Regions from separate parts of the Homo sapiens genome. Here all the other regions are reported to be linked to region 2. The links are microRNA targets in miRTarBase. Many come from high-throughput screens and were not tested one by one. Region 2 holds a microRNA gene; each other region holds the end of a gene's coding sequence.

Evidence for each region. The annotated mature microRNA hsa-miR-4507 reads CUGGGUUGGGCUGGGCUGGG and lies in region 2 at 3,987-4,006, opposite strand. An mRNA with a match to its seed (bases 2 to 7 or 8) in the 3' UTR can be bound and repressed. Matches are read on the target gene's strand: a 7mer-m8 pairs with bases 2 to 8, a 7mer-A1 pairs with bases 2 to 7 and ends in A, and an 8mer does both.
Region 1: the mRNA of SCAMP3 is a reported target of hsa-miR-4507. Seed matches in the 3' UTR shown: 7mer-m8 at 934-940.
Region 3: the mRNA of PPM1N is a reported target of hsa-miR-4507. Seed matches in the 3' UTR shown: 7mer-A1 at 4,711-4,717 and 7mer-A1 at 4,850-4,856.
Region 4: the mRNA of LCORL is a reported target of hsa-miR-4507. Seed matches in the 3' UTR shown: 7mer-A1 at 1,419-1,425 and 7mer-A1 at 861-867.

Annotation. Positions count from the first base shown.
Region 1 is chr1:155,250,427-155,256,989 of GRCh38, reverse strand. SCAMP3 (secretory carrier membrane protein 3) reads left to right here. Exons shown (of 9, transcript NM_005698.4): 8 at 199-316; 9 at 571-1,009. The coding sequence ends at 717. ENTREP3 (endosomal transmembrane epsin interactor 3) reads left to right here and starts at 1,507. Exons shown (of 12, transcript NM_006589.3): 1 at 1,507-2,337; 2 at 2,534-2,590; 3 at 2,796-2,906; 4 at 3,012-3,131; 5 at 3,258-3,365; 6 at 5,085-5,257; 7 at 5,389-5,488; 8 at 5,826-5,895; 9 at 6,169-6,563. The coding sequence starts at 2,113. RefSeq lists an enhancer at 6,473-6,563.
Region 2 is chr14:105,854,139-105,862,143 of GRCh38, forward strand. MIR4507 (microRNA 4507) reads right to left here and starts at 4,037; the gene lies at 3,986-4,037. MIR4539 (microRNA 4539) reads right to left here and starts at 3,434; the gene lies at 3,375-3,434. It overlaps MIR4538 (microRNA 4538), which reads right to left and starts at 4,104; the gene lies at 4,027-4,104. MIR4537 (microRNA 4537) reads right to left here and starts at 5,415; the gene lies at 5,346-5,415. It also overlaps IGH and IGHM. RefSeq lists an enhancer at 7,651-8,005.
Region 3 is chr19:45,497,492-45,505,458 of GRCh38, forward strand. PPM1N (protein phosphatase, Mg2+/Mn2+ dependent 1N (putative)) reads left to right here and starts at 952. Exons shown (of 5, transcript NM_001080401.2): 1 at 952-1,920; 2 at 2,458-2,575; 3 at 2,965-3,070; 4 at 3,159-3,219; 5 at 4,526-5,022. The coding sequence starts at 982. The coding sequence ends at 4,594. LOC107985314 (a long non-coding RNA gene) reads right to left here. Exons shown (of 2, transcript XR_007067269.1): 2 at 3,319-4,056. RefSeq lists a silencer at 1,180-1,249.
Region 4 is chr4:17,841,271-17,846,445 of GRCh38, forward strand. LCORL (ligand dependent nuclear receptor corepressor like) reads right to left here. Exons shown (of 8, transcript NM_001394446.1): 8 at 1-4,631. The coding sequence ends at 4,618. NCAPG (non-SMC condensin I complex subunit G) reads left to right here. Exons shown (of 21, transcript NM_022346.5): 20 at 1,040-1,109; 21 at 2,032-3,595. The coding sequence ends at 2,155. Among named protein-coding and RNA genes, the nearest start is that of NCAPG, 33 kb to the left of the region's middle.

The DNA of each region.
Region 1 (6,563 bases), not on the chromosome of region 2:
AGCTCAGGGCTAATGGTTCAGAAACTGGAATTAAACTATGAAGAGATTAGATACAGTTTGGGATTGTGGTGCTTGGAATGCTGCTCGATTGACAGGGAGCCACTGCTGATGGGAAGGGTAGGAACAGGGGATGCTGGTGACATAACCAGTGGAGAAGCTGAGGAGCCCCTCTTCACTGGTACATCCTTCCCTTTACAGTGGCTGGATCTCTGCTCTGGTGGTGCCGAAGGGCAACACAGCAGTATCCGTGCTCATGCTGCTGGTCGCCCTGCTCTTCACTGGCATTGCTGTGCTAGGAATTGTCATGCTGAAACGGGTGAGGGCTGTGTCGAAGGTGGGGCCGGGATGGTGAGATCATGGGTCCCCAGGGGCGTGGGTGGAACATTCAGGAGCAACTGGCACAGGTCAGGCTGCTGGGTTGTTCTCAGCTAATGGACCTCTGGGGTGTGTGTTTCTGTGTGTGAGTGTGTGTGCTGGGCAGCAGGCTGCTGAGTGGTAGTGATGCTGTTAGGCTGGGGTGGGGAACCAGTGGCTGGAATGGGCGGTAATGTCTTTGTCCTCTACTTGCAGATCCACTCCTTATACCGCCGCACAGGTGCCAGCTTTCAGAAGGCCCAGCAAGAATTTGCTGCTGGTGTCTTCTCCAACCCTGCGGTGCGAACCGCAGCTGCCAATGCAGCCGCTGGGGCTGCTGAAAATGCCTTCCGGGCCCCGTGACCCCTGACTGGGATGCCCTGGCCCTGCTACTTGAGGGAGCTGACTTAGCTCCCGTCCCTAAGGTCTCTGGGACTTGGAGAGACATCACTAACTGATGGCTCCTCCGTAGTGCTCCCAATCCTATGGCCATGACTGCTGAACCTGACAGGCGTGTGGGGAGTTCACTGTGACCTAGTCCCCCCATCAGGCCACACTGCTGCCACCTCTCACACGCCCCAACCCAGCTTCCCTCTGCTGTGCCACGGCTGTTGCTTCGGTTATTTAAATAAAAAGAAAGTGGAACTGGAACTGACATCCCCGTTTCCTGAATCTTCATTGGGAATTAGGCCTTATGAAAGAGAAAGGAGAGTGTGGAGTGAGGTGGGAAGGTCGGACCCGGCTTTAGTGTAAACTGGGAGATATGAGGGGCGGGGCGGTGGAGCCCGAGTGGCTGGCGCAGGAAGGAGGTGGGAAGTCCACGGAAACGCGAAACCCGGAGACGCCAGGGAGCCCTGCTCCCCACCCCTCTCCATTAATGACGGGGAAGAGCCACCGCCTCTGCCGGGAACGCCAAGGAATACGCGGGCCTGGAGCCTGAAAAGCTGGATGGGGCTCAAGTGGAGGCCCAAAGGATCACTAGCAGCCTAGCCAGGGTCCAGAGCGAGGCAGGGACTGGAGGAGCGCTTATCCGACTGCCTCGCCCTGCCGCGGGATCCCCCAACCCCGACAGGGTCTCAGTCCCGAACTACAACTCCCGGGGTGCACCGCGCCGGCCCTCGCCGCCATGCCCCTCCTTCCCGCACCATCCCCATTCCCATCCCCCTTCTCTAGTCCCCGACCTGCGGCAGCCGGAGCTCGGGGAGCGGAGCGTGGTGGGGAGGGGAGCGGGACAGGCGACACAGGAGACAGCGGCGCCGCGGCCTCTCCCCACCAGGCGGCCCCGGATCCTACTGGACGCCCTGAGGGCACACCGACCGCGCCTCTAGAGTCACCCCACGCCGACCCCTCCCCTCTTCTCTAGACTTATTTCCATCCTTCCCGCTTTTACCCTCCCCACCCCTCCCTGGGCTCCAGGCCGCCGCCCCCTCCTCACTCCTGGACCGGCCCTTCTCGGTGCCCCTCTTCCCTAGGGAGATGCGATGAGCCGGTGCCCCCGCGTCCTCATCGTCGCCCCGGGCACGGTGCCCGTCCAGTGCCCGTGGTGGGGAGGGAGCACTCCGCGGTCCCTCCGTGACGCCCCTCGCTTGGCCCCCCCCACAGCTGGCGTCCCTCGGCCATGCCCCAGGGGACCCAGCCAGGGGGTGGGCTCTAGAGCGAGTGGGGTGGAGAGGAGAAAGGACGGGGCCTTGGGCGCCTCTGAGATGCTCCCAAGTGCCAGGGAGGGCCGAGCGAGGCGCAGGCAACCGGGCAGCAGGCATGATGCCCTCGCCTAGTGACTCCAGCCGCTCGCTGACCAGCCGGCCCAGCACCAGGGGCCTTACCCACCTCCGCCTCCACCGACCCTGGCTGCAGGCCCTGCTTACGCTGGGGCTGGTCCAAGTGCTCCTGGGCATCCTGGTGGTCACCTTCAGCATGGTGGCCTCTTCCGTCACCACCACCGAGAGCATCAAGAGGTCCTGCCCGTCTTGGGCTGGGTTCTCGGTGAGTTGGGTGCACAGTTGTTGGGTGGGGGAGGCTCCTCGGGCCCCACCCTCCACACCAGCTGCAAGTCCACATGCTTGCCTCTCCTCCCTCTCCTGGTCCTCTGCCTCCTTACAGGGCTGGGTGCATCCTGTGGTGAGGGGCTCACTCAGGAGCCTCCCCTGCCAGGCTGAGCCTGTGCCCACTCTGTCCCCAGCTGGCGTTCTCCGGGGTGGTTGGCATTGTGTCCTGGAAGCGGCCATTCACTCTAGTGGTAGGTGCCAGGGTCCAGTGCCCACTGGGAGGCAGGTGCCCAGCACGCAAGGGGAAGCCCATTTATGTCCTCAAGAAGGGAACTGGCTCCCCAGTTGGTGCCAGCCGGGTGGGCACGAAGTGTCTGTGAAGGAGGGGGACTCTGTCCGTGGCAGAGGAGTACTCATGAGGGTCCCAGCCCTGAGTCTGCACCCTGTTTTCCCCAGATCTCCTTCTTCTCCTTGCTTTCGGTGCTCTGTGTCATGCTTAGCATGGCTGGCTCTGTTCTCTCCTGTAAGAATGCTCAACTGGCCCGAGACTTCCAACAGTGCTCTCTGGTGAGATTTGAGGAGGGAGAGCTGGAAAGAACTGGCTGGGGGAGGTGTGCAGGACACCTCAGTTTGTCCTGACTCAGGCTGCCTCACCCTCCCTGCTCCACTCAGGAAGGAAAGGTCTGTGTGTGCTGTCCCTCTGTTCCCCTCCTCCGGCCCTGTCCAGAGTCGGGGCAGGAACTGAAAGTTGCCCCTAACTCCACCTGTGATGAAGCCCGAGGGGCCCTCAAGGTGAGCTTGCACCCTGCAAACATCCTCCTGGTTCTCACTCTTGCCTCCCCTGCTGGGGTACTCACAGGCCCATAATGTGTGGAACTTAGCCGTCTCCTGACTCCTCTCCTCCTTTCCCTTCCCCAGAACCTGCTCTTCAGCGTCTGTGGGCTCACCATTTGTGCCGCTATAATCTGTACACTCTCTGCTATTGTCTGCTGCATCCAAATCTTCTCCCTGGACCTCGTGCATACGGTGAGAAGGGAGCAGGGGCCAGGGCACGCAGGTATGGTGGGGGCAGGGGTGTGTGTGCTGAGACTTGCCTGAGGGAACAATGGCTACAGATCTGGCTTTTGAGCACCAGGGGCTATGGGTTATCTATTATCCTCATCTATTGGAGGAATGGATGTTTAGTGGGGAGGATGAGAAGGGGAGATGGCAGGGAGTGAGTTAAGTATGTGATGCTGGTCTGGGACCAGGAGAGGGTGCTTTAGAGAATGGGACTGGATGGTGGGGTAGAGTCAAGAAGGTCCTATGCTGGGCACGGTGGCTCATTCCTGTAATCCCAGCACTTTGAGAGGCCCAGGCAGGCGGATCACCTGAGGCCAGGAGTTCAAGACCCACCTGGCCAACATGGCGAAACCCTGTCTCTATTAAAAATACAAAAATCGGGCCGGGCGCAGTGGCTCGTGCCTATAATCCCAGCACTTTGGGAGGCTGAGGAGGGCAGATCACCTGAGATCAGGAGATCGAGACTATCCTGGCTAACATGGTGAAACCCCATCTCTACTAAACATACAAAAAATTAGCCAGGCGTGGTGGCGGGCGCCTGTGGTCCCAGCTACTCGGGAGGCTGAGGCAGGAGAATGGCATGAACCTGGGAGGCAGAGCTTGCAGTGAGCTGAGATAGTGCCACTGCACTCCAGCCTGGGCGACAGAGCAAGACTCCATCTCAAAAAACAAACAAACGAAATACAAAAATTAGCCAAGTGTGGTGGCGGGTGCCTGTAATCCCAGCTACTTGGGAGTCTGAGGCAGGAAAATTGCTTGAACCGGGGAGACAGAGGCTGCAGTGAGCTGAGATGGTGCCACTGCATTCCAGCCTGGGCGACAAGAGCAAGACTCCGTCTCAAAAAAAAAAAAAAAAAAAAAAAAAATATATATATATATATATATATATATATATATACACACAAAATTACAAAAATTAGGCTGGGCTCCGTGGCTCATGCCTGTAATCCCAGCACTTTGGGAGGCCAAGGCAGGAGGATCACCAGATATCAGGAGTTTGACACCAGCCTGGCCAACATGGCGAAACCCTATCTCTACTAAAAATACAAAAATTATCCGGGTGTGGTGGCGGGTGCCTGTAATCCCAGCTACTCGGAAGACTGAGGCTGGAGAATCGCTTGAACCTGGGAGGCAGAGGTTGCAGTGAGCTGAGATGTAGCCATTGTACTCCAGCCTGGGCGACAAGAGTGAAACTTCGTCTCGAAATAATAATAATAATAATAATTAGCTGGGCATGGTTGCACACCCTTATAATTCCAGCTACTCAGGAGGATGAGGCATGGGAATTGCTTGATCTTGGGAGGTGGGGGTTGCAGTGAGCTGAGATCGCGCCACTGCACTCCAGCAACAGAGTCAGACTCTGTCTCAAAAAAAAAAAGAAGGTCCTAGATGGAGGTGAGGCTAAAGGGTGGACATTCCTGTGAAGACACAGAATGTGTGGAGCTTCTGGATGGAGGTGGGGCCATAAAGAGGAATTTGTGGGTGGGCAGGGCCAGAGCTAGAGGTACAGGGTGAGCGTGGGGTTAAGGAGAGCTGATTTTGGGTGAGGGAGGGGCCAGAACAAGAGCTTCTCTCAGGGGATAGGGCCAGAAAAAATAATGTAGATGAGAGAGGAGTTTGGGGGCCCAGGAGGAGCTGTATTCCCAGAATCCAGACTTGCTGACCTGCTCGCTTCCCCAGCAGCTGGCCCCTGAGCGGTCAGTCTCAGGCCCACTGGGACCTCTGGGCTGCACGTCCCCGCCCCCAGCCCCTCTCCTACACACCATGCTGGACCTGGAGGAATTTGTCCCGCCTGTGCCCCCACCGCCCTACTATCCCCCAGAGTATACCTGCAGCTCAGAAACAGATGCACAGAGGTAAGGCCTGGTGGGGTCTTGCTGGGGGAGCTAAGGAAGGGGACTGGGGCTGGGCCTGGATTGCTGGAGAGAGGGATCTTTGTGGAGGGGGAATTATTTCTCCTACATTGACCCTCTTCCTCATCTGCCAGCATCACGTACAATGGCTCCATGGACAGCCCAGTGCCCTTGTACCCTACCGATTGCCCCCCTTCTTATGAGGCAGTCATGGGACTACGAGGAGACAGCCAGGTGAGAGCACAGCACGGCTTGGGGCGGGCTGGGGAGCCGGGTTGTAGCCTGGAAAGCTGAACAGGCTGTAGCCTCTGGATAAAGATAGTAACAGTGGTCAAGGTCTTTACAGCACCAGCATGCCCACTGTTGCCTTTGATCTTCCCTAGAGCCTGGTGAGGTGAGTGGGTTGGAAGCTATCATTTCTGCCATACAGACGTGGAAGCTGAGGCTGCACAATTAAGTGACTTGTACAAAGGGACAAGGCTGGTCTGGAATCTAAGTCTCCAGAGCTCTGTCTAGCACATGGGGGTGTTCAGTGTGTAGGGCTGAACCCTTGACCCTGTGTCTTCTGCAGGCCACTCTCTTTGACCCTCAGCTTCACGATGGCTCGTGCATCTGTGAACGAGTGGCCTCCATTGTAGACGGTGAGCAGGGCGTAATGAGGGGTGGACAAGGGCGGGGCTGCCAGGGATAGCTGGGGTGGGTAGAGACAATAGAAGGGGAAAACAAGGCGGAGTTGGTGGTTTGGGGACATAGGAGGGCTGTGGCAACTTGGAACCCTGGACTTATTTTTCTCCTCTGAGATAAAGCTGGAGGCACAGTGGCCCCTAGAGGCTGGGCTTGGGAGAAGAGGAACTGCCTGGGCAGGGCTAGGCCAGGCCAGGCTGGTGCTACACAGCGCCCCCTGCCGCCCACAGTGTCCATGGACAGCGGGTCTCTGGTGCTGTCAGCCATTGGTGACCTCCCTGGGGGCTCTAGCCCGTCGGAGGACTCGTGCCTGCTGGAGCTGCAGGGCTCCGTGCGCTCCGTGGACTACGTTCTCTTTCGCTCCATCCAGCGCAGCCGTGCCGGCTACTGCCTCAGCCTGGACTGTGGCCTGCGGGGCCCCTTCGAGGAAAGCCCCCTGCCACGGCGCCCCCCACGGGCTGCCCGCTCCTATTCCTGCTCTGCCCCTGAAGCTCCACCCCCACTGGGTGCCCCCACAGCTGCCCGCAGCTGCCACCGGTTGGAGGGCTGGCCGCCCTGGGTGGGACCCTGCTTCCCCGAGCTGAGGCGGCGGGTCCCCCGGGGAGGGGGCCGCCCAGCCGCAGCC
Region 2 (8,005 bases):
TTCTGCAGGGGAGGCGCAGGGTGGGTGCAGCACAGCCGCCGCCCCAGTAGGCCAGAGCATCGTGCACTCAGGACCAGTATCTTTTGAATGGATCTTTTTATTTCTAATTTTATAAGATGCAACATCTCACCCCGTTGACACGGTTAGTTTGCATGCACACACAGAGCGGCCAGCCGCCCCGAGCCTGTGGGCAGGCCAGCAGGGTCAGTAGCAGGTGCCAGCTGTGTCGGACATGACCAGGGACACGTTGTACAGGGTGGGTTTACCGGTGGACTTGTCCACGGTCCTCTCGGTGACCCTGTTGGGCAGGGCCTCATGGGCCACCACGCAGGTGTAGGTCTCCCCCGTGTTCCATTCCTCTTCGGACACGGTCAGGATGCTGTGGGCGAAGTACCGGCCTGGGGCCTGGGGCTCAGGCATTGGGGCGCTGGTCACATACTTCTCCGGGGACAAGGGCTGCCCCCTCTGCATCCACTGCACGAAGACGTCCGCGGGAGAGAAGCCCGTCACCAGGCACGTGATGGTGGCCGACTCCCGCAGGTTCAGCTGCTCCCGGGCTGGTGGCAGCAAGTAGACATCGGGCCTGTGCAGGGCCACCCCTGTGAACAGAGATGGTGGTGAGGGCGGGGCAGTGGGGGGACCAGCCTGTGGGCTGGGGTTGAGTCCCCTTTTCCCCAGTTGCCCAGACAACGGGGGAGTGAGGGGTGCTTTCCACCATGCCCCAGAGGCCAAGGGAGGTCCCAGGGAGTGCAGGAAGAGGGGCAAGAGTGGGGCCTACCCTTGGGCCGGGAGATGGTCTGCTTCAGTGGCGAGGGCAGGTCTGTGTGGGTCACGGTGCACGTGAACCTCTCCCCGGAATTCCAGTCATCCTCGCAGATGCTGGCCTCACCCACGGCGCTGAAAGTGGCATTGGGGTGGCTCTCGGAGATGTTGGTGTGGGTTTTCACAGCTTCGCCATTCTGGCGGGTCCAGGAGATGGTCACGCTGTCATAGGTGGTCAGGTCTGTGACCAGGCAGGTCAACTTGGTGGACTTGGTGAGGAAGATGCTGGCAAAGGATGGGGGGATGGCGAAGACCCGGATGGCTGTGTCTTGATCTGGAGTCAAGAGAAGGGAGTCAGAGGTGGGGCAGGTGTGGATGTGGGCGGAGGCATGGTTCCCACCCAAAGAGTAGCAACTGCCTCTGCCGAGCCCAGGGGTCCTGCCGCCCGAGCCCCTGCCCTTGGCCGCTCTGGGAAGCCAAGGCTCAGGGAGTAGATGGCTGCATCCGGGGTGGCGAATGCCAGACCCGAGTGGACCCCTGTGTGTCGGTGGGTGCTGCCCCTGGGGACAGGTCACTCACCGGGGACACACATGGAGGACGCATTCTGCTGGAAGGTCAGGCCCCTGTGATCCACGCGGCAGGTGAACATGCTCTGGCCGAGCCAGTCGCTCTCTTTGATGGTCAGTGTGCTGGTCACCTTGTAGGTCGTGGGCCCAGACTCTTTGGCCTCAGCCTGCACCTGGTCCGTGGTGACGCCAGACCCCACCTGCTTCCCCTCGCGCAGCCAGGACACCTGAATCTGCCGGGGACTGAAACCCGTGGCCTGGCAGATGAGCTTGGACTTGCGGGGGTTGCCGAAGAAGCCGTCGCGGGGTGGGACGAAGACGCTCACTTTGGGAGGCAGCTCAGCAATCACTGCAGTGAGGGACACGTGTCAGCCCGGTGCCCGCCACTCCCGCCCCCTTCGGCTCCCTCTCTGTCCCGGTGGCTGGGCCCGGCCCTCACCTGGAAGAGGCACGTTCTTTTCTTTGTTGCCGTTGGGGTGCTGGACTTTGCACACCACGTGTTCGTCTGTGCCCTGCATGACGTCCTTGGAAGGCAGCAGCACCTGTGAGGTGGCTGCGTACTTGCCCCCTCTCAGGACTGATGGGAAGCCCCGGGTGCTGCTGATGTCAGAGTTGTTCTTGTATTTCCAGGAGAAAGTGATGGAGTCGGGAAGGAAGTCCTGTGCGAGGCAGCCAACGGCCACGCTGCTCGTATCCGACGGGGAATTCTCACAGGAGACGAGGGGGAAAAGGGTTGGGGCGGATGCACTCCCTGAGGACCCGCAGGACAAAAGAGAAAGGGAGGGTGAGGAGCTGCCTCCTCGTGCCCTGCCTGTCGGGGCTGAGTGGCGTTCTGAGTGCCCTCACTACTTGCGTCCCGCTGTGGCTGCCCCACCAAGGCCGAGCCCACCTGCAGGCCTCCAAAGCCCAGACTGTCATGGCTATCAGGGGTGGCGGGGCCGTGGTGAGGCCTCAGGTCTTTGTCCAAGGCTGCTGGGGCTGCAGGCCTCAGCCCATCCTGCTGCAGGGCCCAGCACTGAACACCTGGACAGACCTGGGGTCTCCTGGAGCAGGCTGAGCCATCCCTGCCACCATTCAGCTGGCTGCCCTGCTGCACTCTGAGGCCTGACTGCCCCTGGCTCCCTGCTCAGAATGGCTGAGGGCTCAGGTTTGGGTGGACCAGGCCTGCTTTCCCCCGAGGCATCAGCACGTAGGTGCTGCACACACTCAGCTCCCAGCACATGCAGCTGGAGGGCCCAGGTTGCATACCTGAATGTGAAGCCTGGAGCCACACACCCCGCAGGCAGCCAATAGAGTCCCTCCAGCCCAGCTTCTGCTGCCCCCAGCTCAGTCACACTCCAGCTACCCTGAAGTCTCCCCAGGCAGACAACCCAGGCCTGGGAGTGAGTATAGGGAGGGTGAGTGTGATGGGGAACGCAGTGTAGACTCAGCTGAGGCTATCCATCTATGTCCAACAAGATCATGAAGATTGGCCCAGTGCCATGTCCTCCAGTTCATCCCAGCCCAGGCCAGCTCAATCCAGTTCATCCCAGCCCAGGCCAGCTCAATCCAGCCCAGCCCACCCCACCCCAGCTCAGCAAAGCCAAGCTCAGCTCAGCCCAACTCAGATGAGCTCAGACCAGCTCAGCCCAGCCTAGCTGAGCTCAGACCACCTAAGACCATCTCAGCTCAGCCCAGCCCAGCTAAGCCCAGTATAGCCCAGCCCAGCTAAGCCCAGTATAGCCCAGCCCAGCTAAGCCCAGTATAGCCCAGCCCAGCTAAGCCCAGTTTAGCCCAGCCCAGCTAAGCCCAGTATAGCCCAGCCCAGCTAAGCATAGTTCAGCACAGCCCAGCTCAGCTCAGCACAGTTCAACCCAGCTCAGCCCAGCTCAGTGCAGCACAGCCCAGCTTAGCCCAGCCCAGCCCAGCTCAATCCAGCCTGGCTCAGCCCAGCCCAGCCCAGTTTGGCTCAACCCAGCTTGGCTCAGCCCAGGTCAGCCTGGCTCAACTCAGCCCAGCCCAGCCCAGCTCTGCTCAACCCAGCTCTGCTCAACTCAGCCCGGCTCAGCCCAGCTCAGCCCAGTTCAGCTCAGCCCTGCTCAGCACAGCACAGCAGAGCTCAGCTCAGCCCAGCTCAGCTCAGTTCAGCTCAGCCCTGTTCAGCACAGCACAGCAGAGCCCAGCCCAGCCCAGCCCAGCTCATCCCAGCTCAGCCCAGCCCAGCCTAGCTTAGCTCAACCCAGCTCAGCACAGTTCAGCTCAGCCCTGCTCAGCACAGCACAGCAGAGCCCAGCTCAGCCCAGCTCAGCTCAGTTCAGCTCAGCCCTGTTCAGCACAGCACAGCAGAGCCCAGCCCAGCCCAGCTCAACCTAGCCTGGCTCAGCCCAGCCCAGCCCAGCCCGGATCGGCTCAACCCAGCTTAGCTCAGCCCAGGTCAGCCCAGCTTAACTCAGCCCAGGTCAGCCCAGCTTAACTCAGCCCAGCCCAGCCCAGCTCAGCCCCCAGCTCTGCTCAACCCAGCCCAGCTCAGCTCAGCTCCGCTCAGCCCAGTTCAGCCCAGCTCAGCCCAGCCCAGCCTAGCTTGGCTCAACACAGCTCAGCTCAGCCAGCCCAGACCAGCTCAGCTCAGCCCAGTCCAGCTCAGCTCAGCCCAACCCAGTCCGGCTCAGCCCAGCCCAACCCAGCCCAGCCCAACCCAGCTCGGCTTAACCCAGCTCGGCTCAGCCCAGATCAGTCTGGCTCAACTCAGCCCAGCCCAGCTCAACCCAGCCCAGTTCAGCCCAGCTCATCCAAGCTCAGCTCAGCCCAGCCCAGTTCAGCCCAGCCCAGTTCAGCTCAGCTCAGCCCAGCCCAGTTCAGCCCAGCCCAGTTCAGCTCAGCTCAGCTGAGCCCAGCCCAGCCCAGTCCGGCTCAGCTCAGCCCCGCCCCACTCAGCCCAGCTCAGCTCAGCCCAGCTCAGCCCAGCTCAGCTTAGCCCAGCTCAGTTCAGCCAGGCACAATCTGGCTCAGCCCAGCCCAGCCCAGCTCAGCCCAGCCCAGCCTAGCTCAGCACAGCCCAGTTCAGCTCAGCTCAGCTTAACTCAGCTCAGCTCAGCTCAGCCCAGCCCAGCCCAGGTCAGCTCAGCCCAGCCCAGCCCAGCCCAGATCATCCCAGCTCAGCTCAGCTCAGCTCGGCTTAGCCCAGCTCAACCTGGCCCAGCCTGGTCCAGGTCAGCCCAGCCTGGACCACCCAGCCCAGCTCAGCTCAGCCCAGCTCATCCTGGTTCAGCTCAGCTCAACCCGGCTCAGCCCAGGTCTGCTCAACCCAGCCCAAATCAGCTCAGCCCAGCCCAGGTCATCCCAGCTCAGCCCAGCACAGCCTACTTCAGCTCAGCTCAGCTCAGCCTAGGTCAGCTCAGTTGAGGTCAGCTCAACTCAGCCCAATCCAGCCTGGCTCAGCCCAGCTCACCCTAGCTCAGCTTAGCTCAGCCCAACTCAACCCAGCCCAGCCTTGCCCAACCCAGCTCAGCTCAGCCCAGCCCAGGTTAGCCCAGCCCAGCCTCGGCTTAGCTCTGCTCAGCTCGGCCCTGCTCGCCTCAGCCCGTTCAGCCCAGTTCAGCTCAGCTCAGCTCAGCCCAGCTCAGCCCAGCCCTGGTTAGCTCAGCCCAGCTAAGCTCAGCTCGGCTCGGCTCTGCTGAGCTTGGCCCAGCTTGGCTTAGCCTGATACAACCTGCTCAGCCCAGTTCAGCTCGGCTCAGCCCAGCCCAGCCCAGCGTAGCTCAGCTCAGCTGAGCCCAGCCCAGGTTAGCTCAGCCCCAGTCCAGGTCAGCTCAACTCAGCCCAAACCAGCCTGGCTCGGCCCAGCTCACCCTAGTTCAGCTTAGCTCAGCCCAGCCCAGCCCTGCCCAACCCAGCTCAGCTCAGCCCAGCCCAGGTTAGCCCAGCCCAGCCTCGGCTTAGCTCTGCTCAGCTCGGCCCAGCCCAGGTTAGCCCAGCCCAGCCTCGGCTTAGCTCTGCTCAGCTCGGCCCTGCTCGCCTCAGCCCGTTCAGCCCAGTTCAGCTCAGCTCAGCTCAGCCCAGCTCAGCCCAGCCCTGGTTAGCTCAGCCCAGCTAAGCTCAGCTCGGCTCAGCTCTGCTGAGCTCGGCCCAGCTTGGCTCAGCCCGACACAGCCTGCTCAGCCCAGTTCAGCTCGGCTCAGCCCAGCCCAGCCCAGCGTAGCTCAGCTCAGCTGAGCCCAGCCCAGGTTAGCTCAGCCCCAGCCCAGGTTAGCTCAGCCCAGCTCAGCTCTGCCCAGGTTAGCTCAGCCCCAGTCCAGGTTAGCTCAGCCCAGCTCAGCCCTGCCCAGGTTAGCTCAGCCCAGCTAAGCTCAACTTGGCTCAGCTCAGCCTAGCTTGGCTCAGCCCAGCACAGCACGCTCAACCCGGTTCAGCTTGGCTCAGCCCAGCCCAGCCCAGCCTAGCTCAGCTCAGCCCCGCTCAGCCCAGCCTAGCTCAGCTCAGCCCCGCTCAGCCCCGCTCAGCCCAGCCCAGCCCAGCCTAGCTCAGCCCAGCTCAGCCCAGCCTAGCCCAGCTCAGCCCAGCCCAGCTCAGCGCAGCCCAGCCCAGCTCAGCGCAGCCCAGCTCAGCTCAGCTCAGCCTAGCCTTGCTCAGCCCAGCTCAGCTCAGCCCAGCTCAGCCTAGCCTTGCTCAGCCCAGCTCAGCCCAGCTCAGCCCAGCTCAGCCCAGCCCAGCCTAGCTCAGCTCAGCCCCGCTCAGACCCGCTCAGCCCAGCCCAGCCCAGCCCAGCTCAGCCCAGCCCAGCTCAGCTCAGCCCAGCCCTGCCCAGCTCAGCCCAGCTCAGCCCAGCTTAGTGCAGCCAAGCCCAGCTCAGCTCAGCTCACCTGGTGCAACTTAGCCCAGCTCAGCTCAGCTCAGCTCAACCCAGTTCAACTCAGCCCAGTTCAGCTCAGCTCAGCCCAGTTCAGCCTTGTTTAGTCTAGGTCAGCTTAGGTCAGTTTTGCCCATCTGAGTCCATTTCTGAAAGCTGGATGGAGTTGTCATGGCCAGAAATGGTCAGCCCACCAGACCTGCTTGTCTCAGCTAAAGCCATCTCATTGCCGGGTTCCTGCACAGCCAGGCTGGCTTCCATCTTTTGTCTCCCTCTACTTGATACCCCAGTTCCCTGCAGTCCTGCCCCAGCGCCACCTGGGTTTTGGTTCCAAAGCATTACCAATCATTACCACCCTCCACTACCTGGGTGGAATATTTCTTTGCTGCTTTAAAGTCATTAAAACATCTTGAGAATGAGACCAAGAATTTAGGAGCCTGTGCTGTGATAAAAATGAGCAGGTCCCCTTGCTCTAGAAGTGGCAGCATATCTTCTGCACCAAGAGGAGGGTATTGAGATGCTCAGAGCCTCCACCTTCCCGGAGCATCCCCTCCCTTCTGAGTCTGCAGTAAACCCCTGCCTTTAAATTCCCTCTAGATAACAGTCATCATTGGAAACAACCAAGAAATGCATTTTATCTGAATTTGCCACTTAAAATTCTGCCATTTACCATAAATCGCTTTGGAAGGCATGGGCTACTTTCAAGGGTGCGATGATGACCTACAGTCAATGACTTAGACAAGGGCGATGCCAGTGGGGCTTGGTATGTTCTCAAGCATCATTACCCATGCCATCCCCATTCAGAGGTTGTGGAGCAGCTCGTGCGACCTCTCCTTCAAATGGGCTTTAGGGAAAGTTAAATGGGAGTGACCCAGACAATGGTCACTCAAAAGACTCACATAAATGAGTCTCCTGCTCTTCATCAAGCAATTAAGACCAGTTCCCCTTCTAGTGGAAATAAGACGTCAAATACAAAGTTTTAAGAGAAGCAAATGCAGCAGCGGCGGCTGCCTGTCTCTTACCATGTCGGGCGCCTGGTCACTGCGAGCCTTGCAAAGCTTTGGCATGGAATCATTCCTCCAAGTCCATTAACAAGGGCTGGGGCCTGAGCAGCCAGTCGGCCCGGCAGCAGAAGCCACGCATCCCAGCTCTGGGTAGTCCGGGGAGACCCAAAGCCCAGGCCGGGCCTGGCAGCCACCCTCCCAGAGCCTCCGCTAGGCCAGTCCTGCTGACGCCGCATCGGTGATTCGGAACAGAATCTGTCCTTCTAAGGTGTCTCCACAGTCCTGTCTTCAGCACTATCTGATTGAGTTTTCTCTTATGCCACCAACTAACATGCTTAACTGAAATAATTCAGGATAATGATGCACATTTTACCTAAAACTTATCCTAAAGTGAGTAGTTGAAAAGTGGTCTTGAAAAATACTAAAATGAAGGCCACTCTATCAGAATATCAAAGTGTTTCTCCTTAATCACAAAGAGAAAACGAGTTAACCTAAAAAGATTGTGAACACAGTCATTATGAAAATAATGCTCTGAGGTATCGAAAAAGTATTTGAGATTAATTATCACATGAAGGGATAACAAGCTAATTTAAAAAACTTTTTGAATACAGTCATAAACTCTCCCTAAGACTGTTTAATTTCTTAAACATCTTACTTTAAAAATGAATGCAGTTTAGAAGTTGATATGCTGTTTGCACAAACTAGCAGTTGATAAGCTAAGATTGGAAATGAAATTCAGATAGTTAAAAAAAGCCTTTTCAGTTTCGGTCAGCCTCGCCTTATTTTAGAAACGCAAATTGTCCAGGTGTTGTTTTGCTCAGTAGAGCACTTTCAGATCTGGGCCTGGG
Region 3 (7,967 bases), not on the chromosome of region 2:
CTCAAACGTGGGCAGGGCTAAAGCAACAGGGAATTATTCAAATATAACTGGGTGGGGTCGGATTCCAGGCGATTCCAGGTCTGCGAAAATTAGAAGGGTCTGGAGCTGTGTGCCTGAATCCTGGATGGGCGGGGCCTGGAAGAGAAAATAAGCGAAGCCCCAGAGGGGAGGGGTCGAACTAAAAACAGTAAAGAAAAAAAAAATATGTATATATATATATATATATATATATATATATATATATATATATCTTTTTGAGACAGGGTCTCGCTCTGTTGCCCAGGCTGGAGTGCAGTGATACGATCACGGCTCACTGCAGCCTCGACCTCCCGGGCTCAGGTGATCCTCCCACCTAAGCCTCCTGAGTAGCTGGGATCACAGGTGTGTTCCACCGCGCCTGGCTAAATGTTAATTTTTGTAGAGACGGGGTCTCGCTATGTTTCCCAGGCTGGTCTCAAACTCCTGGGCTTAAGCGATCCGCCTGCCTCGGCCTCCCTAAGTGCTGGGGTTATAGGCGTGAGCCACCGCGCCCGGCCAAGTATGGTATTTACAGGTTTTGAGGCTGGGGGCTGTACCACTGAGGTGGGAGGAGCTTGGACTGAGTGTTGTGTTGAGAACACAGATTCTAGAATTAGTTTCCCTGGAACACCGGTTACTTCTGTGACTCTGTTTCTTCTTCCATATGTAAACTGGAGATGATGATGTATAACAGTGTGTGACACATTAGTACTATGTAATAGTTTGCCACTGGTACAGTATTATCTTTTTTCTTTTTTTTTCCTGATTCAGATCCCAAACCCCGCTTTGTAGGTGCAGGAAACAGGAGACCCAGAAGTGTAATTCCTTCTAGTGACCCGCCTAAAGAGCAGGTCAAAGGACAGGAAGGAGATTTAGATGGTTTAAAATCTCACAGCGGAGGGGATTAATGGAGGGGGCGGGCAGGTGTACAGGGTGGAGCCTTCCTGATCCCAGGGCTGAAGGATGGCGGTCCTGGCCCGCCAGCTGCAGCGTCTCCTCTGGACCGCTTGCAAGAAAAAGGAGAGGGAGAAGGAGGGGAGGGAGGAAGAGGAGGAGGAGGAGGCGGGGCGCAGGGCCCCCGAAGGGCCTCGGTCTCTGTTGACAGCGCCGCGCCGCGCCCAGCGGCCGCACGGGGGTGCCGAGGCGTCTGGGGGCCTGCGCTTCGGGGCGAGCGCAGCGCAAGGCTGGCGCGCGCGCATGGAGGATGCTCACTGCACTTGGCTTTCGTTACCTGGTCTGCCCCCGGGCTGGGCCTTGTTTGCCGTCCTCGACGGCCACGGTGGGGCTCGAGCTGCCCGCTTCGGTGCACGCCATTTGCCAGGCCATGTGCTCCAGGAGCTGGGCCCGGAGCCTAGCGAGCCCGAGGGCGTGCGCGAGGCGCTGCGCCGAGCCTTCTTGAGCGCCGACGAGCGCCTGCGCTCCCTCTGGCCCCGCGTGGAAACGGGCGGCTGCACGGCCGTGGTGTTGCTGGTCTCCCCGCGGTTTCTGTACCTGGCGCACTGCGGTGACTCCCGCGCGGTGCTGAGCCGCGCTGGCGCCGTGGCCTTCAGCACAGAGGACCACCGGCCCCTTCGACCCCGGGAACGCGAGCGCATCCACGCCGCTGGCGGCACCATCCGCCGCCGCCGCGTCGAGGGCTCTCTGGCCGTGTCGCGAGCGTTGGGCGACTTTACCTACAAGGAGGCTCCGGGGAGGCCCCCCGAGCTACAGCTCGTTTCTGCGGAGCCAGAGGTGGCCGCACTGGCACGCCAGGCTGAGGACGAGTTCATGCTCCTGGCCTCTGATGGCGTCTGGGACACTGTGTCTGGTGCTGCCCTGGCGGGACTGGTGGCTTCACGCCTCCGCTTGGGCCTGGCCCCAGAGCTTCTCTGCGCGCAGCTGTTGGACACGTGTCTGTGCAAGGTCCTGGGGGCGTGGCGTGGTACCTTTGGGGCTTGGTGCAGCAGAGGGAGAGAGCCTCGGGGTTTTGGGGAGGAGGGCTTTGATAGAGAGGCAAGAGTAAAGCTAGCAAAGGAGGGGATAGGACTCAAGCGAAGGGCGTGGCCTGAAGTGGGCAGGGCCAAAATACAGGGGCGGAGCCTGAGGGATGCTTTGAGGCACGGGAGAGTTAGTGGAAGGGACTTAAGAGAAAGGGCGTGGTCTTTTGGAAAGGGGCGATTCTGGGTCGTAGGAGCCGGGCCGGAAGTATTGATTAGTGCTGGAAGGTGGAAGAGCAGGTAAACATCAGAGCGGGCGGAGCTTTAGGGAAAAGGCATTGTTCTCTCAATTGGGAGCGCCTAGGACCGGGTTTGGTCCCAGTAAGAGAGGATTGGCAGGTGGGTGGGACGCGAAAGAAATGGGCATAAGTAGAATGAAGTGGGGGACTTGAACCTGGGGATTGTTGGGAAGCTCTGCCTTGGACTCTCCCCCACCGGGCTCCTTTTTCTCCACCGGCTTCAGGGCAGCCTGGACAACATGACCTGCATCCTGGTCTGCTTCCCTGGGGCCCCTAGGCCTTCTGAGGAGGCGATCAGGAGGGAGCTAGCACTGGACGCAGCCCTGGGCTGCAGAATCGCTGGTGAGCAGACTCTGGGGGCCCAGCTGGAGGGGTGGTTGGCCAGTGAAGGCTGTGCCATAACTTTTTCTTTTTTTCTTTTTTTTTTTGAGATGGAGTCTTGCTCTGTCTCCTAGGCTGGAGTGCAGTGGCGTGATCTTGGCTCACTGCAACCTCTGCCTTCCGGGTTCAAGCGATTCTCCTGCCTCAGCCTCCTGAGTAGCTGGGATTACAGGCATGCACAATCACACCCAGCTAATTTTTGTATTGTTAGTATAGACGGGGTTTCACGATGTTGTCCAGGCTGGTCTCGAACCCCTGGCCTCAAGTGATCCGCCCGCCTTGGTCTCCCAAAGTGCTGGGATTACAGGCGTGCGCCACTGTGCCCAGCCTAACTCTTGACTCTTTCTCAGAACTGTGTGCCTCTGCTCAGAAGCCCCCCAGCCTGAACACAGTTTTCAGGACTCTGGCCTCAGAGGACATCCCAGATTTACCTCCTGGGGGAGGGCTGGACTGCAAGTGAGTTGGGGTGAGGAAGGGTGGGGTGGAATGAGGGTGGGGTGGAAGGAGGAGAGTCCCCTCCTGAGGGCCTTCCTGTGCTCTCCAGGGCCACTGTCATTGCTGAAGTTTATTCTCAGATCTGCCAGGTCTCAGAAGAGTGCGGAGAGGTAAGGATCCTGTGTTCTCCAGTGTTTCTCTTAGGAGGGGACGCCCCCCCGCCCACCCCTCTTAGTGACAGGGAAATTGAAGCCAGTGAGGATAAGGGATTTGCCTGATATATTTTATTCCTCTTTTCTCTTCTTTCTTTCTCTTTTTTTCTTTTCTTCCTTCCTTTCTTTTCTCTCTCTCTTTTTTTTTAGACTGGGTCTCACTATGTTGCCCAGGCTGGTCTCAAACTCCTGGGCTCAAGGGATCCTCCTGCTTTGGCCTCCCAAAGTGCTGGGATTACAGGCGGGAGCCACTGCAACCCAGCCAGCTTGCTATATTAATACATTCCTACTCCCAGCCCTGAAGCATTGTGCAAGGCATGAGGAGGGAGACGCAGATGCAGAGAAGAGACTGTGATTCCCCTCCAAGAAATGTGAGCCGGCAACGCTCTGCAGTGCCCCATCAGCCCAAGTGCTTCCCACATCCAAGAATAAGATGGAAACATTCAGGGAATGCTAATGACCAATTCTAAGGCCTAGACGCACAGCAGATACCATCAGGACATACATGAGTATGATCCAGGTCTTAGACAAGAGAAGCTGTAATGGGGCCCAGATAGCTAAGGAGAATTTGGAGATATCCAAAGATGTATAGTGGTGGACCAAGGCATGGAGTGGCATCAGGGAAGAAATGGGAGGGAGGAAGCTGGGTTTAGAGCCCCAAGGCCTTTGCATGGCAGAGGTGGGAGTTTGGTGATTATCATGTTGATGAGGGAGGATTGTTGACAATTTCTCAGTAGCTGAAGGAGGTATTTGTCAGTTTTCTTTGAGTCGTGAGAGATGGAAGCCCAATTCAAGCTGGGAAAACAAAACAGGGAATTTACTGGGCCATGTAATTGAAGAGTTTAGAGTCTTAAGGCATGGCTGCATCTAGTTGTCAGATGATGTCATCATGAATGGTCTCTTTTTATTTTCTCCGAGTTGGCTTCATTACCTTTCAGGGTCTCCTCCTAAGGTAGCGGAGACTTGCAGCTCCAGGCTTACACCCCAGCAGCCTGTCCTCCCCAGTGGAGAAAGTTTGCCAATTTCCCCGGAGTTGCAGCAGTGGTCTTTGGGGGCTGGTTCTCATTGGCCACACCAGGTCACATGCTGACCAGTCACTGTGTCTGATTGGCCAGGCTGGGGTCGCACTTGGGGTTGGGGTCCACTCCATTCAAACCTTAATGGATTGTGAGATGGGATATGGTGGTCCCTCAAAGGAAAAGGAAGAGGTGCCAGGAGACAAGACAGAATTTCTCATTACCTTCTCCCACATTTTGTGTTACAGAAGGGGCAGGATGGGGCTGGGAAGTCCAACCCCACGCATTTGGGCTCAGCCTTGGACATGGAGGCCTGACAGCTGTTGTCCTTTGGGGATCCTTTGCTTCTCTGGGGCCTCAACAGAACTAAAGAAGAAAACCGACCCTTTCCCCAACTACATGTACCAGCGGAAGGAAGGAAGGCCAATGTAGGAACCCAAAATGCTTATTTCTTCTTCTCTTACTTCCCTCTCACAGAAAAGTCTTACGAATGGGGAAATTCCACCAACATCCAGACCAAAAAGAAAAAAGCCCAAATCGAAAAAAAAAAAAAAAAAAAAAAAAAACAAAAAAACCCAACCAAATGTTTTTGAAATATTCAGAGCCGAACAGATTCTGAGAGATAACCCAGTCCAATAACCTCTTTCCTTCTTATTACTCATCTGTTTTTGAGGGGAAGTAGAGTTTTGATTATTAAACTTTATTTACATAAGTGATTCCAAATACATTTTCTTGTAAAAAACAAGAAGACATGTTTTGCCTAGTCTGTTAGCAAATACGTTACAGGGCACCTGCTGTGTGCCAGGTCTTAGCCTCACAGTCATGAACCAGGCTGACCCACCAAGATCCTTGCCACTGTGGGGCTGACCTCTTGGTCAGGAGACGCAGCAAACAAGGGAATCAATAAATAAAGTCATCTCGCCAGGCGCAGTGGTCCACATCTGTAATCTCAGCACTTGGGGGAGTCTGAGGTGGGAGGATCACTTGAGCCCAAGAGTTCGAGACCAGCCTGGGCAACATAGCAAGATGCAATCTGTAATTTTTTTTTTTTTTTTTTTTTTTGAGACGGAGTCTCGCTCTGTCACCCAGGCTGGAGTGCAAGGGTGCTCTCTCGGCTCACTGCAAGCTCCGCCTCCCGGGTTCATGCCATTCTCCCGCCCAGTCTGTAATTAATACTAAAAAAATGAAGTCATCTTGCACACTGACAAGTGTCACGAAGAAAATAAAACAGGAGGATGTGTTGAGAAAATGACTAGGGGAGCTACTTCGGGTTTTTTACTTTTTCCAATTTTTAAAATTTTGATTTATTTAATTCAGGTAGTTTTGAATGGGTAATAAATTCACTTGGTTTGAAATGCAAAGAGTGCAAGATGGCATACAATGAAGTCTTTCTCTATCCCTCTCACACTTCAGCCACTCAATTTTCCGTGGTGGGGGAGGTGGCTTTTGAAACAGGGGAATCAGGAAAGGTCTCTGAGGAGGGGACAGTTGAGCAGAGACCTGACAGAGAAGAGTCAGCTCCGCAAATACCCCAAAGAGTGTTCTAAGGCAGAGGGAACAATCAGTATGAAGGCTTAGAAGCAGGATAAAATTTCCCCCCTTTTTTTTTTTTTTTTTGAGACAGAGTTTTCACTCTTGTTGCCCAGGCTGGAGTGCAATGGTGCAATCTCGGCTCACTGCAACCTCCGCCTCCTGGGTTCAAGTGATTCTCCTGCCTCAGCCTCCCAAGTAGCTGGGATTACAGGCACGTGCCACCACACCAGGCTAACTTTTTGTATTTACTACAGACAGGGTTTCACCATGTTAGTCAGGCTGGTCTCGAACTCCTGACCTTAGGTGATCCACCCAACTCGGCCTCCCAAAATGTTGGGATTACAGGCATGAGCCAGCCACCAGGTCCGGCCAAATTTGGCATTTTCAAGACAGACTTGAGACCTCCCAAGTGCGGTGGCTCACACTTGTAATCCCAGCACTTTGGGAGGCCGAGGCAGCTTGATTCCAGGAATTCGAGACCAGCATGGGCAACATAGCAAAACCTTGTCTCTACAAAAAAAAAAAAAGATCTCTGTGACCACCAAATTAACCCCACACTCTCTATCTCACTGGTAACCCTTGCAATGAGTTTAAAGTGGACTTTTTACATGTATTAATATATGGTATTCTGGGTGTTTCCTTGATTTTTTTCATTCCCTTCGTATCTCTGGCAACTTTTTATCCACTTAATGGATGTTTTCATTCTATGTCACCCACGTCATTTACACACTTCATGCCACCCGTTTTTTTAAGAGACAAGGTCTAAGTCTGTATCCCAAGCTGGAGTATAATGGCGCAATCATCGCTCACCACAGCCTCGAACTCCTGGGCTCAAGCAATCCTCCTACCTCATCTTCCCAAGTAGCTGGGACCACAGATGGATGATACCACACCCAGTTAATTTTTTTTTTTTTTTTAGAGATGGGGTCTCGGCCAGGCGCAGTGGCTCACACGTGTAATCCCACCACTTTGGGAGGCCCAGGTGGGCAGATCTTCTGAGGTCAGGAGTTCGAGACCAGCCTGACCAACATGGAGAAACCCCATCTCTACTAAAAAATGCAAAAATTAGCTGGGCTTGGTGGTGCATGCCTGTAATCCCAGCTACTTGGGAGGCTGAGGCAGGAGAATCGCTTGAACCCAGGAGGTGGAGGTTGCAGTGAGCCGAGATTGCGCCATTGAACTCTAGCCTGGGAAACAAGAATGAAACTCTGTCTCAAAAAAAAAAAAAAAAAAAAGAGAGAAATGGGGCCTCACTATGTTGTCCAGGCTGGTCTCAAACTCCCTGACCTCAAGTGATCCTCCTGCCTTGGCTTCTCAAAGCACCAAAGCACTGGGATTACAGGCATGACACACCTTGCCCAGTCCACACCTCCTTAAGTTGCTGCTCACTCCGTGCTTCAGAAAAGGATGTCCAAGGGTTTCACTATTCCCTGCCCTCATCTTTTTTTTGTTTTGTTTTGTTTAATTTTTTTTGAGGAGTCTTGCTCTGTCTCCCAGGCTGGAGTGTAGTGTCACGATCTTGGCTCACTGCAACCTCCGCCTCCGGGGTTCAAGTGATCCTCCCACCTCAGCCCCTCAGCCACCCAAGTAGCTGGGATTACAGGTGTGTGCCACCATGCCTGGTTAATTTTTTGTTTTTGGTAGAAACGGGGTTTCACCATGTTGGCCAGGCTGGTCTTGAACTCCTGACCTCAAGTGATCCACCCGCCTCGGCCTCCCAAAGTGCTGGGATTACAGGCGTGAGCCACTGTGCCCAGCCTCCCCTGTCCTCTTGATGAACATTTAAGCTATTTCCAATTTCTTGCTCTCACATCACTGCTACCGTAAAGATCGTTATGTACATATGCAAGCGTTCTCTTACACAGGGGTCTTGCTACCTGTTTTGTACAGCACTTAAGCTAAGAAGAGTTTTTTTTACAGTTTTTAAGCCTTGTAAGAAAAAAGAAAAACTGAAGAGTGTGTAAACCAGACCCTATGTCTAGCATATCTAAAATATTTCCTATTTGAACTTTTACAGAAAATGTTTGCCGGCTGGGCCTGGTGACTCACACCTCCAATCCCAGCACTTTGGGAGGCTGAGCCAGGCTGATCACTTTAGCCCAGGAGTTTGAGACCAGCCTGGGCAACACAGCTAAACCCTGTCTCTACAAAAAATTA
Region 4 (5,175 bases), not on the chromosome of region 2:
TCCAGACAAACTACTATAAGGAACACTAATAATCCCACCCATGAGCCAACCATGATTTTGATTTTAGAAATCTATTTTTTAAGGCCCTTTTCGATGCAGATTTAATTTTTTCTAAAATGGAGTCTGGTCATAATATTGTTTTGTAACCAGTAAATTATTTAAATACCAATTGCTGGATATTGTTCCAAATTAGTCCCATATTGTTGGATGTTTTCTTGGGGATAAATGCATTAGTAAAAGCAGGTAAGGAGTAGAAAAAAGTGTAACATGAATGAAGTAGAGTATATAATTTTCAGACTGTCACATTGAACAGTTTGGTTTTGATCAGATTTTTTTTGTGGTATATCACACCATGAGAACACCATCCTTTTTAATAGACCAAACTTCATATATTCATATTGTTTTATTCCTTATAAATGAGAAACATCACAAGCCAAACTTTGTCTTACTCCTTAACCTTGTAAATTTCTAGTAAGTAGAATCTTATAATCCCCAGTATATAAAGGTTCTAGTTTTTACATTGAAATATATTTTAGAACACATTTGAATTGGTCATGTATGTTATTTTACAAGAAGCCATTATTACCTTACTATGTTTTATCACCTTCCAAGAAAAAAAAAAGTTGTTTCTTTAGCACCTGTTTATGCACCTAACCTACCTTTCTAACCCTTAATTTTCATGAGTCTCCACAGACTTTGTGCTATAGCAATAATAGAGGTACTTCATTATAACACATTTTTCATATACTGTCCTCAAATACATTGAACTAAAATTTGCCTTCTTTTAACTTGCTTGAAATTTCCTTATTTTCCCTTACTCATTATTAGTGCTTACAAAATAAATTAAGTTTTAATCTTGCTTGGGTTCCTTTTTCTGTGGCAGTGATAACTGGTACCAAGATGGCTAGAACAAGTAGGAGATACATGTGTTGAAAGGATTGTTGTGTTGAAGACAAAGGATTTAGTTAGCCTAGAAACTAGATTAAAAACAAAAAGCAACTGATAATAAATCCTGATAATGAATTATACTATCTTCAAGGACAGAGAAAAGTGACAGTTTCAGCTAGGACGAACAGGAGGTGTCAGACTGCTGAAGCCGACTCTGAAAGGTATGTCATGCATGTCTAGAATATATGGAGGCCTATCTTCACTTTTTATTTCTACAAGTAGAAAAAAACTAATTTTCTTGCGAATGAGAGAGAATATATAACAAGATAGTGAAAACTATAAATAGCTGTCTTAGGTATATAGTCTAAAATTCCATCATCAAGAGCATTTGACTTCTTACGGCGTGTTTGCTTTTGCCTATTAGCTGGCATGGTCTTTAGTACTATCTTTAATATGTTGTTTCAATTTTTAATTACATGATGTGACTCCTCTTTGATCTTCAGTTAGCAAACTCTTGATTTTGATAATATTTGGGTTCTCTACACTTACATACTGATAGAATAATTCTGTCTATAATTTGGGTATATTGTGTGGTAGAGTGTTTTATTTTTGGCTTCTGTCAGTCAAGCCACTGTTAGAGCTGAAAGTTGGTAGCTGTCTTGTATTCATTTGCAAAATTGTATTGTGTGTATTTTCAGTACATAGTTTTACACTGTTGATTAAATTTGTCTTTTTTGGGGGGAAACTTGTTTTTTACTATGTTTTTGGAATTTATTGCTTAAATCAAGAGAGAGAACTTAATTTTTTTGTCACTTCTTGAGTTTCAAAGAAATCTCTTTTGGACAGTTATGGTCCTCGTTTAATTACAAGCTTCATTACAAGTTTGTGGCTTTTTTTCCTGTATAACACCAGGTTCTGTTATAGTATATAAAATCATTAGCTAGATTTTCCCTGATTCACTTTGCTAGATAGCCAAGTCAGTGTTTTTTTGACATTGAGATTTTAGTTTTAAGCTAAGTCAATGGAATCAGGCTATCAATTAAACACTGATAGAATGTGAGTCAGAAACAAAAAAGTTTTATTTATAAATAAACTGGTTTTAAAGCTTGTATCTAAATTCGTGTATTTTCAACATCTATTTAGTGATCATGAAGTTCCAGAACCAGAATCAGAAATGAAGATGAGACTACCAAGACGAGCCAAAACCGCAGCACTAGAAAAAAGTAAACTTAACCTTGCCCAATTTCTCAATGAAGATCTAAGTTAGGAAAGACGATGGAGGTGGAATCCTTTAAGATTATGTCCAGTTATTTGCTTTAATAAAGAAGAAGTTACCCTTGTCAAAATCAGAACAAACCTGATGTCTTTCTGAAGATTTTCTGCTGTGCGCTTCCACGTTACTTTGGCCTGTATTAAAGCAGTAGAGCAGCATCAGTTATTATAGTCCAGAAAAAGTGTGCATCAGTCAGTCACACAGATTTATCACAATCTGAGGTGGGCCTAGGAATCTCATTTTTAAATAGTCTCTCCAAGTGATTCTTATGAACTCTTTATGTTTAAAATCATGTCATTATGGAAAACTTACAAGTGTAACTAGCTAGTAGCTTGCATTTGAGAAGCTTATGACTTAGATGGGCAGAATCAACAAAGATGAAACCGCCTGAGGACACATTTAACAAGTAACATTTCTAGGGAAAATGAAGGAAGTACCACAAACTGGCTAGAAAGGAGCTTATCAATCACCAGTGAGGAAGACCAGTATAACGTTCAACAACAGTTATTTTGACAAAAACTTATTTTGTGATTCCTACAGTGAAAACATTTTTGGTGATATCTGCCTGGGAAATCTCTCTTCCTAAAGTATTTGTATATGGGAGTCCTTGTTTGTGAATGTTTCCTGGATTAGGGAGGTGTCAACATAAATGTATTATTAACCATGAAGCTGCTCGCTATATTTTTGGCATAACAAAATAATATTTATTTACTGTGGATAATAATTCTAGTGGGAATATAATGTGACAGGAACTTCTCTTTATATACGCTACCAATTTATGAGCACTATTCACTGTCAATTTCATTTCTTGTCTTTTGAAATTGACACTTGGCCTGACTTACGAAACTTGTACTATATGAAATTGGTCCTCTTTTCTGCAATACCCAACGAAACACCTTTTCTCTTTATTATTCAGAAATGTCCTAACATGGATCTGTTTGTTTTAATAATTGTGCTTTTTTTAGGCTTATCATCTACTAGAGGCCATTTACTTAAGGTGAAATTTTAAGATGGAGCTAAAGTAAGATCACTGGTTTTTAGAACCAAATTGCTATACATATGTGCCTCATAGAACTTATAAAAGGAGTCAAAGTTTCAAAGCAAGATAGTTATTAAGCAAAAGGAAAAATGGTAATGATAGAAAGTCAGTTAAAAATAGATGATTGTTCTTCATTCTGTTTGTTGGCTCTGTGTTCTCCTGTGCTTCAGATTCCTTATGTGTTGTTGTTTTAAAGACAATTTGCAGGGGGTTGGGAGAAGGACTGAAAAGGTACATTAAGTGTGCTGTAAGGAAAAGTCTTAGAAACATAATAAGCTAAAATCCCATTCACACATGGCCAGGCTATCCAAAAAGAAAGGAGCCATGTTCTCATGTGGTTTACCATACCAAAGCTTGCTTTCTCTGGCATGGGAAAAATAAATTTAAGCACCAAACCTTTAGTATTCTGAGTATTCAGTTTTTAGACATAGTCATGTAGCCATTGCTGAAACTGTGCTTTGCACTATTAAAGGTAGGGAATGTCCTGCTTTTAAAAGTCATCCCTTTAACTTTAAAATAAAAGGCTAAGGTACAATAAAACAGATGTAAATCCATTTACCATTTTTCATTCAAAACTGGTAACTTACAGAAACCACATAGTATTTTTCTCTATCAAGAGGCACAGATTTGCTGAACAGTAAACATGCAATTGTGCCATTGCTCTTAAAGCCCACAGACTTAGATTTAAAATACAGAGAAAGAACTGATAAGCTCACATTTTCCTGTGAATGGGAAACATGCTACTTGACAAAAAGCTATGATCAACTTTTTTTCTTCTGTACATATATAACGTTGAAGGAGATTTACTTCTAAGAGATACCTTTGCCTTTTCTTTCACCAATTTGCTTCGAGGTAGTTGGTATCCACCTGTTTTACAACTGCTCATGGGTCAGGTTATCATCACAAATCTTTACAATACTAGCTTTATAAATCACAATGTGTTATATATTAAAACTTTGTGCACAGAAATAAAACTAGGGACAATTACGTATTTAAACTTAGGGCATAAAAAATTCACATAATACCACTAAAAGAGAAACATCAAAATCCGTTTACAAAATTCCACAATGATCTGATGTAAAACATGTAAAAAAAACATATAAAGAATATAATCAAAATGATTAATGCTAATGATTTAATATAAAGACAAATCACAGGACTAGAAATACTTCAAGATCAATTGATAAATGCTTATTGTTCAGAAGGAATACTGACATACAAAATAAAGATAGTGCAAGAAGAACTGCAATCTATTTCTCTTCGCTTTTGAGATTTTGGTTATGAACTGTACAGCTCGTTAGAGATGCTGTTGTCAAATTCAGATTCCATTCAATGGGACGATTAAGGCACATCTTAATGGGGCTCAAAGGGCAACTTGCTGTATTCTCATCAGACACATTCAGTTTCTCATCAGTTTTCACTTGTAGCATGCTGGAAGAAAAAGTGTAAGGCATTTTAGTTTTACTTTAATTTCAAAGTAATTATCAACCTTGTAAAAGAACATTTAGTTGTAGTAGTGTTTGGACCTCTAAATTTTAGCATACATAAAGCATTTATCCTGAAAATACAACAGTTTTCTCTCCCGCCTACTTACTGAACTAAATACAATGAATAATGCCATGTAACCTGTGTAACTTGAGAAGTTACATATGACTGAAAAAGTAACATTGCATATATGGATTACATCAGTATACATCAGAAATTATTTAACCTTGTGAGCCTGGTAGGATTCAACCCTTTTAACTTGCCCTTTTGTGGATCAGAATGAGAGCCACTTTGAGAAAAAAAAGGGATCAACATTTGTTGAATGCCTATTACGTTCTAGCCACCTTCACATGTATTGTCTCATCTGAATTTTGCAAAAGCCAAGTAAGGTTGGTATGCTTATCCTCATAGTAAACAATAAAATCAAGACTCTGAGAGTTAAGTACAAATATGCCTGAGGTCATACAGTCACCTGCCTGGAACTGGAATA